Linked DNA regions of Homo sapiens: region 2 is linked to region 1. The links come from fine-mapping of genetic effects on gene expression. A gene starts in region 1. The other region holds a variant in brackets. All regions are shown on one strand. Distances are between the middles of the regions. Region 1 holds the start of TECPR2 (tectonin beta-propeller repeat containing 2). Region 2 holds the start of WDR20 (WD repeat domain 20).

Evidence for each region.
Region 2: its variant is fine-mapped to the expression of TECPR2 in whole blood (TOPMed, PIP 0.98).

The regions. Positions count from the first base shown.
Region 1 is chr14:102,357,869-102,366,809 of GRCh38, reverse strand. TECPR2 (tectonin beta-propeller repeat containing 2) reads right to left here and starts at 3,869. Exons shown (of 20, transcript NM_014844.5): 1 at 3,694-3,869. CINP (cyclin dependent kinase 2 interacting protein) reads left to right here and starts at 3,920. Exons shown (of 5, transcript NM_032630.3): 1 at 3,920-3,965; 2 at 7,223-7,391. The coding sequence starts at 3,959. It overlaps LOC124903427 (small nucleolar RNA U13), which reads left to right and starts at 7,908; the gene lies at 7,908-8,011. RefSeq lists silencers at 3,336-3,425, 3,466-3,875.
Region 2 is chr14:102,134,763-102,143,703 of GRCh38, reverse strand. WDR20 (WD repeat domain 20) reads right to left here and starts at 3,807. Exons shown (of 3, transcript NM_144574.4): 1 at 3,532-3,807. The coding sequence starts at 3,780. It also overlaps a transcript of HSP90AA1 not described here. RefSeq lists enhancers at 3,552-3,711, 3,722-3,771 and a silencer at 4,372-4,567. The variant C/T (reference allele first, on the strand shown) is at 4,754.

The DNA of each region.
Region 1 (8,941 bases):
TCATCTCTCCTACAAGAATGTAAGCAACATGAATTCTCTCTTGCTTACCAAGGTAAATCCTAGTATCTAATAATAGCTTTGGCACAGAGTAGATGCTCAGTAAAGATTTGTTAACTTCAGGTCTTACTGCAAAACAATAGTCTCAATCCAATTTTTAAAATTGGGCTGGGCATGATGGCTCACGCCTGTAATCCCAGCACTTTGGGAGGCCGAGGTGGGAGGATTGCTTGAGGCCAGGAGTTCGAGACCAGTCTGGCCAACATGGCGAAACCCATCTCTACTAAAAAATACAAAAATTAGCCAGGTGTGGTGGCGCACACCTGTAATCCCAGCTACTTGGGAGGCTGAGGCAGGAGAATCACTTGAACCTGGGAGGTGGAGGCTGCAGTGAACCAAGATCGTGCCACTGCACTCCAGCCTGGGTGACAGAGTGATATTTCATCTCAAAAATAAATAAATAAATAAAAATATAATGAATAATGCTTCCTTAGTCATGACTATTTCAGTTAAAAAAATACAAAACACCACCCTATGGCATCCTTCAAGTTACGATGCTTCCTTTCCCCACTAGCCCTGTCAATCTCATAACCCTGGAAGGTGGCAGCTAGCCTTCACTGCTGACTACTAACACCCAACTGCCACCCAGATGGATGATTTCTCAAACTGGAGCTAGGACTAATATAGAGTCTAAGTCATCCACTTCGCTGTACAATAACCATGTTATCAGAGTGCTCTGGGTACACTAATGGTTTCAGGATTCTCTCCAAAATCCCTAGGAAGCAACAATTTGTATCCCTATTGTAGAATCTATGTTTGAAATCTGGCTACGACATCTATTAATTATTTGAGTATTAAATTATTAAGGAGGAACGTAATGAGACTGAGGCAGTCATTTATCTTCCAGACAAAATTTTGTCACTTCCTTGCTCCCATCCCCATTGGCTACCCAATGGTCACAAGCTAAAGCCTAACACAAGCATGGAAATTAGACACTATGACAAAACAGTCTATATCTAACTTCATCTCAGGCCACTCTTCCATCCACACACTGTGCACTCCCTACCCTTTAGCAATCACCCCTCTACACGCTTCTTCTCTCAGCCCTGGGCAACCACTGATCTCCTCTCTGTCTACAGTTCGCCTATTCTGGAGATTTCATCAAAATTGAATCATATAATATGTGGTATTTTGTGTCTGGTTGCTTTCACTTAGCCTAATGTTCTCAAGGTTCCTCCATGTTGTAGCACAAATCAGTACTTCGTTCCTTTTTATTGCTGAACAGCCTTCCATTGTGTAGACAGGCCACGTTTTGTTTGTGCATCCATCAGCTTTCCATCACAGTCCCTGCACACACCATAACCTGTATGTCTCTGCAGAACAAAGTCCCTTTCCACTCTTCCCTATTCCCCCACATGTGCCCTGTAAGAACTAGTCCTCCGCCACCAGGAAGCCTTCATAAATTCCCTCAGATACTTGGTTGGTCTTTCTCTGCTTTCACAGAACTCCATGATGGCAGTTATCGCACAGCACCATCATTATCTGTTTTCTCTCCCCTTCAATGGACTCTTTCTCATCTTCACCTATGTTCTTCTAGTCTGTATACTTTGTGGTGCTTTAAAAGACCAATAAAGAGTATGGTACAATCAATGCTCAATACACGTTTGTTGAATGAATCTCTCTCTCAAAGCACTGTGCTAGATTCACCCAAGTATGACAGCCCTAAATATAAAATAGTGGCAAAAAGTCAATAGAACTCTTATGTCCAGGTCCAAAGAATACATTCATTTTAAATTGAACATGCATCTTGAGTAACAGCTCCCTTCTACCTTAGCAATTCGCAAAGCCATCAACTACTCCCTTCTAATTTTACTGATCTCTCTGTGCATTACTGAATCTAGAAATCTCTTCGTGCTTGACACCAAAGCTTTTCATTATAACCCTTTCCTGATCTATTCCTCATCTTCCCAAGTTCAATCAACTGCCTCTGCCTGATGCCTGTTTCCTTCCTTTTCTTCCCACTAAGTTCCAGTAGCCATTTTTTTCAACTCCTACAGCGGCTAATATGAAATGAAATTCTCCCCAAACTTAAGTGTAACTTCTTTAAGAAAAAATTGGAAAAAAAAATCCAGTAGATGCCAGTCTTCTATTGAAAAAGACACGTGGGTATAATATAGCTGATGCCTAACAAAAGCTACTTCCTAGTCACTCCTTCAGAAGAGGGTTATCCTCATTCCATCTTCCCCACCACTGGTTTTCCAAGGCAGTCCTGAAAATTCAATTTGTGTGTCCCCTACACCTGCACTTAGTTCTCCCTTTTAAAGTTCATGGGCCAGACCATGATCTTTCTGAGGCAGTGACCTCAGGAAGGGTCTGTCTGGTTCACCACAGCATCCCTAGAGCCAGCCTGGCACAGTGCTGGCACACGATGGCCAAATAACCACCAATATGGGACGTAAGTCAGGTTAACAACAACAACAACAAAAATAAGGTCAGAGGTTTATCAAGGTACATTATAGCTGGGTGTGAGAAAACACAAAGTCCTGCAGCCTAAAAGACCAGGAATCGCTGGTGATCACAAGGAGCTACAGTGGCTTCATTCCCAGATTCTACCTATGCCTGGGATTTGCGTTTTGAGATTTCCCAGAACTCTGTCTACAAGACCTTGGCTGCAAGGAGGCAGTCCACAAGTGCAACTGGTCACTCCAATAGATGAGAAAAGGATGCACCCAGGCTGGTATCCCACATTCTGCCAACACATGGAACATAAGTCACAGAACAGAATAAAATTCCTGAATCCCAATAAGAGAGGAAGAAAAAAGTGCAGGGAAGAGAAATGGAGGTAGAGAAGGAGAAACTAAAGTCATGAGAAGTCAGAGACATATCAGAAGGGACTAGAGGGCGAGAACGCAGGCTAGCACAGATGACAGCAGGGGCTCCCCTTTACTGAAATGTACAGCGGCAGGCACCGTGCTTAACTTTACATGCACTGACCCATTTAATCCTCTTACCAAGCCAGAGGTAGAAACTATTCTCATCTCCATTCCACTGGTGATGAAACTGGAGCGGAGTGAGGTAGGGCACTTGCCCCAGCACAGAGCTAGGAAGGGGCCGCTGGGACCTGCCCGGCTCTGACTCCAGGACACCCCATCCTTTAACACTTACTACCTATTCTGCCTCCCATGCCTTCAAATAGGATTGGGAAAGGAGTCATTCACTTATCCACTCATCGAACACTGAACACCAACTGGATGAGTGTCAAGGCCTGGGGCCAGGCGCCGGTGGGCGGATGTAAGGGACGCGGGCTGCGAGTGGGGGACAGAACACGACGTCAATCTTAAGGCGAAGGAGCAGAGCCCGCGGCCAGACCGGCAGCCGGGATGCAGGGTGGGGCCGGGGGCCGAGGGCGCGGGACGCGCAGCGGAGGCCTGAGGAGGGGCGGGCGGCCCCTGTTCCCCGCTGCGGACCGCCGGATTCTGCGGGCGGCGAGCCAGGCGCTCCGTGTGTTGTGGCATTTAGTGTCCGCCACTCCGCGCGGGCGAGACCGCGGGCGAGGGAGACGGGGCGGACGGGCATGGAGACCCTGCGGGGCTGAGGCAAGGGAAGAGTGGCCCGGGGGAGGCCGAGGAGGGGCTCGGGGCCAGGCGTCGGGGGCGTCGGGGGCGTCGGGGCCGCTTGCGGCGTCGCCGGACTCACCTCCCGCGGCAGCCCCTCCGGACTCGTCGGCCCCGCCGGGCCGGAGGAGGCGGGATGGACTCCGGGCCGCGGGGGCTGCCGGGAGCCTGTTCCCTGGGCAACGGGGCCGGCACCGGGGCCAGCACCGAAGAGCAGCAGCTGGCTCCGCCGGGGGCTAGAGCGGCAGAGCCACAAGTGGCAGCGGGCGGGGCGGACGTGACGCAAATGCGTTTCCGGTGGGGTGGGCGGGGCTTCGCGTCTCCTTCTACGGATATCTGTGGACCTTATGGAAGGTGCGTGAGATCGGTTCCTTTCCCGGGGTGGGGTGGCTGTGAATGTTACTGCTTAGGCCGCAGGTTGGACCAGAAGCTCAGGAGCTCCCCGGATTACATGAGGTTAAATGGAGGTCCTCTGTCTTACCCCAGCCTAGCCCGCAGGCCCCTCGCAGCCTCTGCGAGCTGCTCGGGAGACAGTTTTGCCGAGCCTCCGTTTTTTCACATGTGCAGTGACAGATGAACGGGACGATATACGCAAATGAGTGTCAGCAGATCCGACATCCAAATTGTAATTATTGTCACTATAAATTAGTACTAACAGAGTTCACTGGGTACCAAGCCTTGCATGCTCATCTCGTCCAGAAACTCCTCTCTGAACTGCCCTCAGTCAGAACATTCTGCTTGTAATGAAAGCTGGCTTTCGCCTAGTGCTCAGTTTGCTGAGTACTGCTCCAAGCACTTTAAGTGGATCATCTCATTTGAACCTCACAGTGGTCCCATGAAGTAATGTCAACCCCATTTTGCAGATGGGGAATCGAGGCTCAGAGGGGATAAGTAACTTAGCCACTGTGCCCTCACCCTACCCTGTCCTGTGACGCTGATGACTGGTCTGTCTTTACCAGCCCTTGAGTTTCTTGAAGTCAGTTATGTTTTTGGTTCCTAAATATGTGCCCCGTATGAGTCAGGCTGACCATGAATCAGATGTGATCCTGCCCTCAGAATCTCCTGTTGGGGGGAAAACCCTTAGACAATTATAGAACAGGTGGTAAGAGCTATTCCTCCATTTACCTCATTTTATGCAAAGCCTCCTATGTGTGGAAGGTTTGAAAGAGAACGAGACATAGTTCCTACCCTAGTCGAATTTCCAGTTTAGCAGGGAATATAGACATTAAACAAGCAAATACACTCCACTGGTGAATATCATGATAGCAGAATTATAGGGTGTACCACATATCTAGTGGTGAGTCGTAACCCAACCTGGGGGATCCAGGAATACTTCTCTGTGGAAATGACTTTCTAAAAACCTAAATCAGATAATTTCACTGCCCTATCCAGAGCTCATTGCTCACTCCCCATTGTATTAGGTTGGTGCAAAAGTAATGGCAATTTTGGCTGTTAAAAGTAATGGCAAAATCTGTTACTTTTGCACCAAGCTAATACTTAGAAGTCCAAACTTCATTTTTTTATTTTGTTTTGTTTTGTTTTGTTTTGTTTTGTTTTTGAGACGGAGTCTCGCTCTGTCACCCAGGCTGGAGTGCAGTGGCGCGATCTGGGCTCACTGCAAGTTCCGCCTCCCGGGTTCACGCCATTCTCCTGCCTCAGCCTCCTGAGTAGCTGGGACTACAGGCGCCCGCCACCACGCCCGGCTGATTTTTTGTATTTTTTTAGTAGAGATGAGGTTTCACTGTGTTAGCCAGGATGGTCTCGATCTCCTGACCTCGTGATCCGCCCGCCTTGGCCTCCTGAAGTGCTGGGATTACAGGCGTGAGCCACTGCCCTCGGTCCAACTTCTTATCTTGGCCTATTAGGTTCTAGTTGTCTGATCACCTACTCACGCACTAGTCCTTTTCTGTCTATTTCATTCCAGCACACTGGTTTTTTTGTTTGCTTGTTTGTTTTGTTTTGTTTTCTGTTTTTTGAACTCACCAACCTCATTATCATAATTAGGGCACATACTACTGACCTACCCTATTTCTGGCTTTTCATCATTCAAATCTCAGCCTAAACGACACCTTCTCAGGGGATCACACTAACACAAGACCCTGTTTTATTTTCCACACACACTTAATCATGATCTGAACTGATCGTGGTCATTTGTTTATTATCTGCCTCCCCTTTGGAAAGTAAGTTCCATGAAAACGGTCCTGGTCCGTCTCATTCAATCACTTCATTCCCCCATGCCTGGCGTATTGTAGGCAGTAAGCAAATATTTGTTGTTTAAGTAAAGAATGAATGATAAATCAAGATGATATTTTAAAGTGAGGATACTAAGTATGAGGCAGGGGAGTGGGGACACACACAGATAGGAAAAATATTCCAGGTCAAAGTCAGAACTTGTACAGAGCCAGCTCTGATGCACAGAGGGCAAGTGGGAAAGGGTAGAAGCTGAAGTGGTGGGCAGAGCTTGGATAGTAGAGGCCCTTGAGCTAACAGGTGAGATACTGGGTTTTTGCCTTGTGCGAGGCCTCACAGCTTCACATATATTATCTAATCTCAGCAATCCTATGAAATAGATACTATTTTTATTCCCATTTTACAGATGAAAATGTTGAGGCTCTGAAAGGTACATTAAGTTGCCCAAGATCTCACAGCTGGCGAGCTGGGGTTCAGACGCAGGCAGTGTGGTCTTCTGACTTGAGGCATCAAACCATCCAGCTGTTGTGTGTCCTGGATTCCTCAAGAGGACTTTATCCTGTGGGCAGTGAGAAGCCTTTGTGGGGTTCAAAGTAGAGAAGGCAAGAGGGCACAGGAGGGTTCGGGGAGAACAAACAACCTGAGTTGGCTCTTGGTGGTCTGGGGGTTGCTTCCTACAGGCAGTGGGATCCGGGTGCATCTTGGAGGATGGGCATCGTGAGCCTGAGGAAGGAAGGAGCTTTCCTGCAGAGAGAACACGTGTAAAGGCCTGCAGGCACCTCAGCTTTTCAAGAGCTGCCAGTAGTTCATTTTCGCTGGATATTGACGGGGGGCCAAGGTGTGGGTTGATGTACGTGATGATGTGGAGGGGTAGCTAGGTCTGGAAGGATTTTGGACTTCCTCCTGATTACCAAGAAGGGCAGTGGCAGCATCGTGATCAACTCTGCATCTCTGTTGTCTCAGTGTCTTGAAATGATTAGCACTCATGGGCCACGCTACTCTGAGCAAATTTAAAGTATCAGAGTGCCTGAGACTAGATAGTGGAAGTACTCGGGAGTCAGGGCTAGATTATCCTGTAGGGAAGGGAACGTGAGCCATTGAAGAGTTTTAGCAGACAGTCACAACTTTACCTTATTTCCAATCTTTGGAAAACAAAGGGCTTAAGGTAAAAACTTTGTGGAGCCATTAAGCTGGAAGAGGATTCAGCTCTATCTGGTGAATTTTAAAATGTTAAAAATATTCTATATTGTCTTCTTCCAGGAACTTTCACATTCATTCAGACTTTGTAGTTTCCACATTTATTTGTCCAGTTGATACAGCATTTCAGATAGTTTTACTGTTGAAAATTATAAGGACATTTGCCCTCCAACTATGATTGTATATTCCATGATAATAATTTTGTTTCTTTTATACCCTATCAGCAAAGACTCTTGGAACTGTAACGCCCAGAAAACCTGTCTTATCTGTCAGTGCAAGAAAAATTAAGGACAATGCGGCTGATTGGCACAATTTAATCCTGAAGTGGGAAACCCTCAATGATGCAGGTTTTACCACTGCAAATAATATTGCCAACTTGAAAATCAGTTTATTGTAAGTACATATTGGTTTTTCATGCTCTAAGTTTTTCACCCTTAATAACTGGGGAAATAATGTGAATAAATTTTAAAATAAAATATTAAGCAAAAAAAGCAAGTGGTAAGATGATACGTGTAAGTATAAATTGTATTGTACATTTTAAATACAAAATTATATTCCATATATATATATATATATATATATATTTAGTTATTTATTTATTTATTTTTTTGGAGATGAAGTCTCACTCTGTTGCCTAGGCTGGAGTGTGATGGCGCGATCTCAGCTCACTGCAACCTCTACCGCCTGGGTTCAAGCAATTCTCCTACCTCAGCCTCCGGAGTAGCTGGGATTACAGGCGCCCGTCACCACACCCAGATAATTTTTGTATTTTTAGTAGAGACGGGCTTTCACCATGTTAGGCTGGTCTCGAACTCCTGACCTTACGTGATCCACCTGCCTCAGCCTCCCAAAGTGCTGTGTGAGCCACCGTGCCTGGCTATTCTGATTTTTAAAACCACAGATTCTTTGATTCTTTTGTAGTTCATAGGCATAATGATTGGGTTTTCATGCTCATGTATGACCTGTGCCTTCCTCAAACTTTGCTATGATGTTGGCACATTACCTAGCTGATATGGAAAAAACTACCATGAATTCTTTTCATCCATTTTTGGATTTTACGTAAACAAAAAACATATGTTATTGTTTCCTTTATATCTCACTTTCTTTTTCTATTTTTTATTTTTTATTTTTGGAGACGAGTCTCACTCTATCCCCCAGGCTGGAGTGCAATGGCGTGATCTTGGCTCACTCTAACTTCTGCCTGTCAGGTTCAAGTGGTTCTCCTGTCTCAGCCTCCTGAGTAGCTAGAATTACAGATACCTGCCACCATGCCCGGCTAATTTTTGTATGTTTAGTAGAGACAGAGTTTCACCATGTTGGCCAGGCTAGTCTCAAACTCCTGACCTCAAGTGATCTGCCCACCTTGGCCTCCCTAAATGCCGGTATTACAGGCATGAGCCACTGCGCCCAGCCATGTCTCACTGTCTTTCAACATGGAAGCCATGCGTGTAATGTAGAGCCACTATTCTGGTTCTGTTCTTTCTCATTGCTGTTTAATAGTGTTTACCCACATTAGACCTCTCACACTGGTTTATCAACTAAGTTATATAATATTCTCAATCTTTTGTTGTCATTTCAACAGTGTGCACAGTGTCTTTCCCAGGAATAGATTCCATCTCAAGAAACCACCTTCTTTGCTCATCCATAAGAAACAATTCCTTATCTGTTCAAGTTTTCTCATGAGATTGCAGCAATTCAGTTCCATCTTCAGACCCCACTTCCAGTTCTGGTTCTCTTGCTTTTTCCACTGGCAGAGTAGATTTAACATCATTCTTAAGGGCCCTAGGAATTTGAGAATGGTAAATGAGCATTGGATTCAACTTAAAGTCACTAACTGCAATATCCCCTAATAAGAGGGTGAGCCTGTCTCTTGAAGCTTTGAAGCCTGTCATTGACTTCTCTGTAGTTGTGAATGTCTTGGATGGCATGTTCTTCTAATAGAA
Region 2 (8,941 bases), 220 kb after region 1:
GCGTGGTGGTACGCACCTGTAGTCCCAGCTGCTCGGGAGGCTGAGGGAGGAGAATCGCTTGAACCTAGGAGGCAGAGGTTGCAGTGAGCCGAGATTGTGCCACTGCACTCCACCCTGGGTGACAGAGCTAGACTTTGTCTCAAAAAAAAAAAAAAGATGTTTAAAAGCTAGTAGTTGAAAGTCTTTTGGGGAGAGGGACAGGGTCTTATTTAGCTCTGAATACCTCACATCACCTTGCCTGGTATTATTACTATCACAGTAGTCACTCAAATCTGGTAAAATGATTAGTGTCAGTATTAAATCAATGTTAATACTGTCTTTAAATAAATTTGCAAAACTACATCTCCTCACACAAGAAACCCCACTCTAAACTTCCTCGATTGTGAAAAGATGTTTTAATCTACCTCAAGAATTTAATAAAATAATATATGGCAAAATGCCGGGGTAGATTCTGAAGTGCTCGGAGTATATAATATCCCTGTGATCAAAAAGGTGGATCAGTCTCTTCTAAGCTGGTTTAGACTCAGCTGTGCTTCATTTTCCTTACTATGAGAAAAAATTCTAACAGGTTTGCATCCCCTCTCTGGCCTTGGTTCGCTCTGAGGAGGGTGAAATAACAAACTCTAAAGTTCCTTCTAGCTCCAGACACTGACCTGTAAACCTTTTAAAAGGATCAAGATTGCACTCCTCAGCATGAACGTTAGACTACTTCCTCACCTACTCCATTTCCCCAGGACCCCATGTTTCCTCTCAGGAATGGTAGCACGTAATTAATGAGTTAAGTTCTTTAAAAGACCTATTTTCTACTCATTTTACACACAGACTTAAGTTGAATTTACTCATCTAAATTAGATCTTCTGAATAATCCAAATAATTATTGTAAAATTTTACACGCCTCAAAGGACCAAAAAAAAAAAAAAAAAAAAAAAGTCAAAACAGCCAACTGTGCGCTGGGCATGGTGGGTCACACCTATAATCTCAGCACTTTAGCAGGCTGAGGTGGGAGGATCGCTTGAGGCCAGGAGTTCAAGACCAGCCTGGGCAACACGGCAAGACCTCCATCTCTAAAAAACATTTTTTTTTTTAATTAGCCAGGGTGGTGCACACCTGTAGTTCCAGCCACTAGGAAGGCTGAAGTGGGAAGATCATTTGAGCCCAGGAGTTTGAGGCTGTAGTGAACGATGAGCACGCCACCGCACTCCAGCCTAGGCAACAGGATGAGATCCTGTCTCTAAAAACAAAAACAAAAACATGTTTAATAGCCAACTGTCAAAAATATGTTTGTAACTACTAACTCTAAAAAGTAAATTTTGGTTTTCCAATTAAGGAAAATGTATTTCCTATATTTTAAATCAGAAAATAGTCATAAAAAGTCACTTATACTCAGAAATAACAACAAATAAATGCCAACTCATTCATGGAAAAAAATGTTTAAGTTACAATTAAAAGAGAGTAGAAACATCTGCAACACAATGCAAATGTATCTACAAGATACTACCACATGAAAATGAAATTTTACCCAAAAAGCGTTAAAACACTCAAATTATGCAGGTAAGGGCAATTTACGTATTTCACATTTATCTTGTTTAAAATAATTTTTTGGTGTGGTTTTAAAAACCTTGCCTCCTTTTACCCTTCAGGGAATAGCGTCCCACTAAAAGAGAACACTATTGTAATGATACTTCCAGGCAAGAAACCTGTCTTTATGATGTAAAACAGGGCTACCAGATCCAGATAAGGTCTGCCATTAGGATGCTTCAGAAGTCATAACATTTCAAAGAAAAAAAAATTTTTAAGTAATTCCTACATTAATAATTGCTAGTTAGTGAATTTAGTTTTTAAGCACATCGTATTTTTATATAAATATAAATTTTTATAACTTAAAATTCTAAACTTAATTTCCTGAGACAAAATTGGTCCTTTCACTCTGATTATCAATGTCAAGACAGCAGCTTCTTATTTGACAGTCAGTATTTAACTATATTTTACATCTACTGAGTGTTTCAGGGCCTTAAAGTTCATTATGATTATTATATTATTAATTACAACGTGCACTGTAACATTCCCTTTTTAAAGAGGTGCAAATAGAAGTTAAATAACTTATCCAAGGTCACCCAAACAAGTCAGTGACAAAGTTGGGAGTAGGAGTAAAACTTCAGCCCCTAGACTGAAGACTACTTCGAGCTTTTGCAATTCCAAACGAGGAAAAAAAAAAGGTCAAGCGATTTACCCTTAATAACTTCCAACAGCATACCCTAAATACAGTGGTACACTTATTATCATAAAGACTAAGAAAAAAAGATTCACCCTGAATCAAAGAAACAACTTTGCTACATTTAGATACCACTGTCATTTCCCTAGCTCTTGTAACAAGCGAAAATCCTGTACTGGATCTGGCTATATTAAATCCTGAAGAATGTTCACTCTTCAATATGAACAATTTATTTTCATGCTAACATGCATTTACGACTTAATCTTTTATCACCTTGTCCTATTTGGAGGTGCTGTGGGATGCATTAATTTCCTCACTCTTCCATGACATCAAGTCAAAGACTACAATCTCAAAAATAAGCAATTCTCAGTGAAAACATAGTTACATAGCCAATGAAAGAAAAACTCTAATAAATGGCTGCTTTTAAAGAGATACTTTTAAAGGATGCTTACATGTTTCACAGAATTACCGGTAACTCGCCCGCCAAGAAGGATGGTCCCTTTAAAGCAGCTTTTAAAGCATATCACTCCCTGTTTGGGACACAGTCTGACTTGTTGGACAAGATTAATCTGGGCACTCTCACACAACCCCTCTGAACCAGCTTAGTTCACTGGAAACATCATTTCAACTGTAGTACTCAGCCCTTCGCATACTACAAGGGACAAGATGACTCTCCTTAACAATCTTTCAGAAGGTCCCCACGGCGGAGACAGTGACAGCCGTCCTCCCGCGGATGTTTTTGGAAATAGAAATGTTAACACCAGGAGAGGCTCCTAGGAAGTGTCAGTGCGGCAGCAGGTGGAGTAGCCCTGCGTGCCGAGCAGGTTCTTTCTGACCTAGTCTCAATGCTCCGCTTCCCGGCCCCGGTTCCGCCTTACAGAGATCTTGTTAAGCCGTCTTGCGTCCCTGTTCTCTAACCCAGGGCGAGACTTCCAACCCTCCAGGGAGGCGAGGCAATCGAAGCAGACAAGACGGCCACCTCACCTCTTCCGGGGACTCGCAGGCCCGCTCCCTGGCCATGTCAGAGCCTGATGGACCAGGCTGGAGGGGACGCAGCCGGCTCCCCCGGGAGCCTCCCAGCCAGAACCCCCGCGCCCCACGGTCCCTTTCCACTGCCCCCACCCCTTCGAAACGCCACCGCCACCACCCTCCTTACTCCTGAATCCCCTCTCCTCAGGAGTACCCCAGTGGAGTTACCGGCCCACTCAAAAGTAAGAGCGACGGCCACCCCTCTCGGTCACCCTGGCCCCACTGTCACCGCCCTGCTCCCGGCCTCTGCCTACGCCGCTGGCTGGCTCCGGTGACGCCCGGGTCGGTACCTTGCGGACCCCCTTGTAGATATAGAAGTACAGCTCCCGGCCCACATTGAAGCAGAGGCGGTCGCCGTTGCCAGACTGGTCGTTGAGGTTTACGAAGGAGACGCGGACAGGGTTGGATCCCTGCGAGTTGAAGGGCACCCGGTTGGGCCGGCTGTACTCCGAGTGCGGCAGCAGCTTGTACAGACCTTCCCGGGTGGTGAATTGGGTCTTAATCTCGTTCATCTCCTTCCCTCCTCCCTCCGTCGCCATCTTGGAAAGCAGCGTTCATCCTGCCCTAAGTGCCCGGATCACGCCCACCGCGCAGGCGCTGTTCCTGGTGCTCCCTCTTCCCCCACCCCCTGCCTCTTCCTTCTCGCCCCTCCCACCCGCGGGCCAGCCCTGCGAGGGCGGGCCAAAGGGAAGGGGTGGGCTTGTTTACGGCCCGACTGCGCAGGCGTGCTCACCTGGCGTGCTCCACCCGACTGGGCGTCCGCAGGCTCCTCCCCCGGGTGTGGCCTCCGGGCGGCATGGCTGCTTCCCAGGTGATGCCGGCTTCAGCTAGTGGGGTCTAGTTGACCGTTCCGCAGCCGCCAGGGCCAGCGGAAAGCCGGTCAGGGGGAACCGCGGCGGGGCTGGTGTCATGAGCCTGAGGTGAACTTGAGGGTGCCTCCTCAGCGGTCTCCCGCCCTGCCCTGAGGGGCGCCGGGACCCCAAAGAGCGGAGGAAGAGCGCCACCCCGACGGCCACCGCTTCGGAGCCAGCACGCGGGGTACCCTACGGGGAGCGCGGATGCCCCCGTGTTCGGGCGGGGACGGCTCCACCCCTCCTGGGCCCTCCCTTCGGGACAGGGACTGTCCCGCCCAGAGTGCTGAATACCCGCGCGACCGTCTGGATCCCCGCCCAGGAAGCCCCTCTGAAGCCTCCTCGCCGCCGTTTCTGAGAAGGTACCAAGGGACTCAAGATTTACGCTTCACTATGTTTTATTTCAGGCGGGGTAGGGGGAGAGAAGAATGTGGTACAGCATAGGTGTTCTCAAGCCAGATATCCTAATTCCTGCGTGTGATGAGCACTGGCGGCCTCCGCTTCTTAGCGGAGGTTTGTCCTCTCCAGCTGTTCAGAAACACGGGGCGGGGAAGCGCTTTGGGAACCGGGGACTGAATCTTTTTAGGATTCACTGATCTTGCTCAGTAGGTTACGAAGAGCTCTTAATAAAATTTAAGGTAATTGTTTTTTTTTCCAGAAG[C/T]CTCAGGTGGAGTCTGTGAGATTATTTACTAGTAGATCCATAGGGATAGTTGTATGCATGTAATGTACAGGGTCTAGATTTATAAGGACGGGCACACGTGTCAAAGTAAGATTCAACAATCACTATTTTATACCTGGGTTTCTTGGCATGTTACACCAGAATAAGAAAGCTTCTAAAGTGACAGAAACATTCTAATAGAATTCCAGGGAGGGGGGAAGCCAACATTTGTAACACCAAGAATGATCTATTCCTGGAAGTTCAGATTATATCTGGAGGGGCACAAAAGAAGTGAATGGAGAGAATTTCTAAAGTAGGAGGAGTGTAAATCATAAACATCTTCCGTATTAAAAAGCAAGTAGATACCAATAGAAACTGTGCCAATGATGTAGTAATACATTTGATAATAACATCTTTAGCCTTTGTAGTGTTGGAAAAAAAAAAGAAAAAAAAGCACTGAAGTACTTCTTAATTAATAGAGCCTGAAAAATACTTAAAATTTTTTCTTAGAATTGTTTTGATGTTATCCGACTTTCCCTAATCTTAAAACACCAGGGTATGTTCTGTCGTTACCATGGCTATATCCCAAACTCCATAACTGTGTTATTTTACATTGAAAACACGTATTTTACAATAATCAACTTGAAGGATAGTGGCATCTTGAATCATCTAAAAATAATTTATCTGTGTTTCCTAATTATCAAGAGGAAAAAAAGTATAATTTTTGGGGGGGGAAAAAAACCCAGCGAGCAAAAGTTAAAACAAAATTTTGTATTATTCTTCAATTAACCATAACATTGTATTTCCCATAATACCTATATAATTCAAGCATTCTATCAAGATTTTACCCTATATAAATTCAACATTTTATTATAATCACAGTAATAAACTGTTCACTTTGTCTCATGCATAGCCTTTGGTTTAGTTTTGTTTTTTTTTTCTTAGATGGAGTCTCGCTGTCGCCATGCTGGAGTGCAGTGGTGCAATCTTGGCTCACTGCAACCTCTGCCTCCCAGGTTCAAGCGATTCTCCTGCTTCAGCCTCCCGAGTAGCTGGGACTACAGATGTGCACCACCACGCCCAGCTAATTTTTGTATTTTTAGTAGAGATGGGGTTTCACCATGTTGGCCAGGATGGTCTTGATCTCTTGACCTGCTGATCCACCCACCTTGGCCTCCCAAAGTGCTGGTATTACAGGCATGAGCCACAGTGCCCAGTCCCATGCATAGCCTTTGAATAGTCTCTATTTTTATTCTTTTTATCTCATAACTTTTCCTCCATATTCAAAGATTCAATAAGCAACACCCAAATCTAAATAACTAGGCCTGAATGGCTGGGCGTGTTGGCTCACACCTGTAATCCCATCACTTTGGGAGGCCGAGGCGGGCAGATCACGAGGTCAGGAGTTTGAGACCGCCTGGCCAACATGGTGAAATCCCATCTCTACTAAAAGTACAAAAATTAGCCAGGCGTGGTGACACATGCCTGTAATCCCAGCTGCTCGGGAGGCTGAGGCAAGAGAATTGCTTGAACCCGGGAGGTGGAGGTTGCAATGAGCCGAGATGGCACCACTGCACTCCAGCCTGGGCAACAGAGCGAGACTCCATCTCAGGAAATAAATAAATAAATAGATAAATAAATAAATGGGCCTGACCTAATTTTATTTCTGATTTTCAATTTCAAACCGGGAATTTAAAAAAAAATTTTTTTTTTGAGATGGAGTCTCACTCTGTTGCCCAGGCTGGAGTGCAGTGGCACAGTCTCAGCTCTCCGCAGGCTGGAGTGCAGTGGCACAGTCTCAGCTCTCCGCCTCCCAAGTTCAAGCAATTCTCCTGCCCCAGTCTCCCGAATAGCTGGGATTACAGGCGCATGCCACCACACCCAGCTAATTTTTGTATTTTTAGTAGAGACGGGGTTTCACCACGTTGGCCAGGCTGGTCTCGAACTCCTGACCTCAGGTGATCCACCCACCTCAGCTTCCCAGAGTGCTAGGATTACAGGCGTGAGCCACCGCGCCCGGCCTCAAACCAGGTATTTCTTTTTTTTTTGTTTCCTTTTTTTTTTTTAAGAGAAGTCTCGCTCTTGTCCCCCAGGCTTGAGTGCAATGGCTCAATCTCGACTCACTGCAACCTCTGCCTCCCGGATTCAAACGATTCTCCTGCCTCTGCCTCCCAAATAGCTGGGATTAAGGCACCTGCCACCACACCTGGCTAATTTTTGTATTTTTTAGTAGAGACAGATTTTAACCATGTTGGCCAGGCTGGTCTTGAACTCCTGACCTCAGGTGATCCACCAGCCTCGGCCTCCGGAAGTGCTGGGATTATAGGCGTGAGCCACCGCGCCCGGCCCAAACCGGGTATTTCTTTTTTTTTTTTTTTTTTTTTTTGAGACGAGTCTCACTCTGTCGCCCAGGCTGGAGTGCAGTGGCATGATCTCGGCTCACCGTAACCTCTGCCTCCCGGGTTCAAGCGAGTCTTCTGCCTCAGCCTCCCGAGTAGCTGGGACTACAGGCATGTGCCACCAGGCCTGGCCAATTTTTTTGTATTTTTAGCAGAGACGGGGTTTCGCCATGTTGGTCAGGCTGGTCTCGAACTCCTGACCTCGTGATCCGCCCACCTTGCCCTCCCAAAATGCTGGGATTACAAGCGTGAGCCACCGCGCCCGGCCCAAACCGGGTATTTCTAAATAAATTCATCAGTTTCTAAACCTTATGAATTATTTTTTCATTTCAAACTTGAATCATTATGATGGTTTTGTGCATTAATTCCTTCTAAACAACTACCAAAATAATTTTCTAAAAACAGTGCTTTAGACATTACATATTCTTTTGTCCAAAAACTTTCAATTATTTGAAATACCCACACAATTTAAGTCATACTGAGAGGTTACAACGTGCTGGCAGTCCTCAGAGCCCTGGCTTGCTCTCGGCGCCTCCCCTGCCTGGGCTCCCACTTTGGTGGCATTTGAGGAGCCCTTCAGCCCCCCACTGCACTGTGGGAGCCCCTTTCTGGGCTGGCCAAGGCTGGAGCCCACTCCCTCAGCTTGCAGGGAGGTGTGCAGGGAGAGGCGAGAGCGGGAACCGGGGCTGCGTGCGGCTCTTGCGGGCCAGCTGGAGTTCCGGGTGGGCGTGGGCTTGGCGGGCCCCGCACTTGGAGTAGCCAGCCAGCCCTGCTGGCCCCGGGCAATGAGGGACTTAGCACCCGGGCCAGTGGCTGCGGAGGTGTACTGGGTCCCCCAGCAGTGCCGGCCCACCGGCGCTGTGCTCGATTTCTCGCCGGGCCTTAGCTGCCTTCCCGCGGGGCAGGGCTCCGGGACCTGCAGCCCCCATGCCTGAGCCTCCCACCCACTCCATTGGTTCCTGTGCGGCCGGAGCCTCCCCGACGAGCACCACCTCCTGCTCCACGGCGCCCAGTCCCATCGACCACCCAAGGGCTGAGGAATGCGAGCGCACGGCGCAGGACTGGCAGGCAGCTCCACCTGCAGCCCCGGTGCGGGATCCACTAGGTGAAGGCAGCTGGGCTCACACCAATCAGCACCCTGTGTTTAGCTCAAGGTTTGTGAGTGCACCAATCCACACTCTGTATCTAGCTACTCTGGTGGGGCCTTGGAGAACCTTTATGTCTAGCTCAGGGATTGTAAATACACCAGTCGGCACTCTGTATCTAGCTCAAGGTTTGTAAACACACCAATCAGCACCCTGTGTTTAGCTCAAGGTTTGTGAGTGCACCAATCCACACTCTGTATCTAGCTGCTCTGGTGGGGCCTTGGAGAACTTTTATGTCTAGCTCAGGGATTGTAAATACACCAATCGGCACTCTGTATCTAGCTCAAGGTTTGTAAACACACCAATCAGCACCCTGTGTTTAGCTCAAGGTTTGTGAATGCACCAGTCGACACTCTGTATCTAGCTGCTCTGGTGGGGCCTTGGAGAACCTGTGTGGAAACTCTGTATCTAACTAATCTGATGGGGACGTGGAGAACCTTTGTATGTAGCTCAGGGATTGTAAACGCACCAATCAGCGGCCTGACAAAACAGGCCACTCGGCTCTACCAATCAGCAGGATGTGGGTGGGGCCAGATAAGAGAATAAAAGCAGGCTGCCCGAGCTAGCATTGGCAACCCGCTCGGGTTCACTTCCGCACTGTAGAAGCTTTGTTCTTTCTCCCTTTGCAATAAATCTTGCTACTGCTC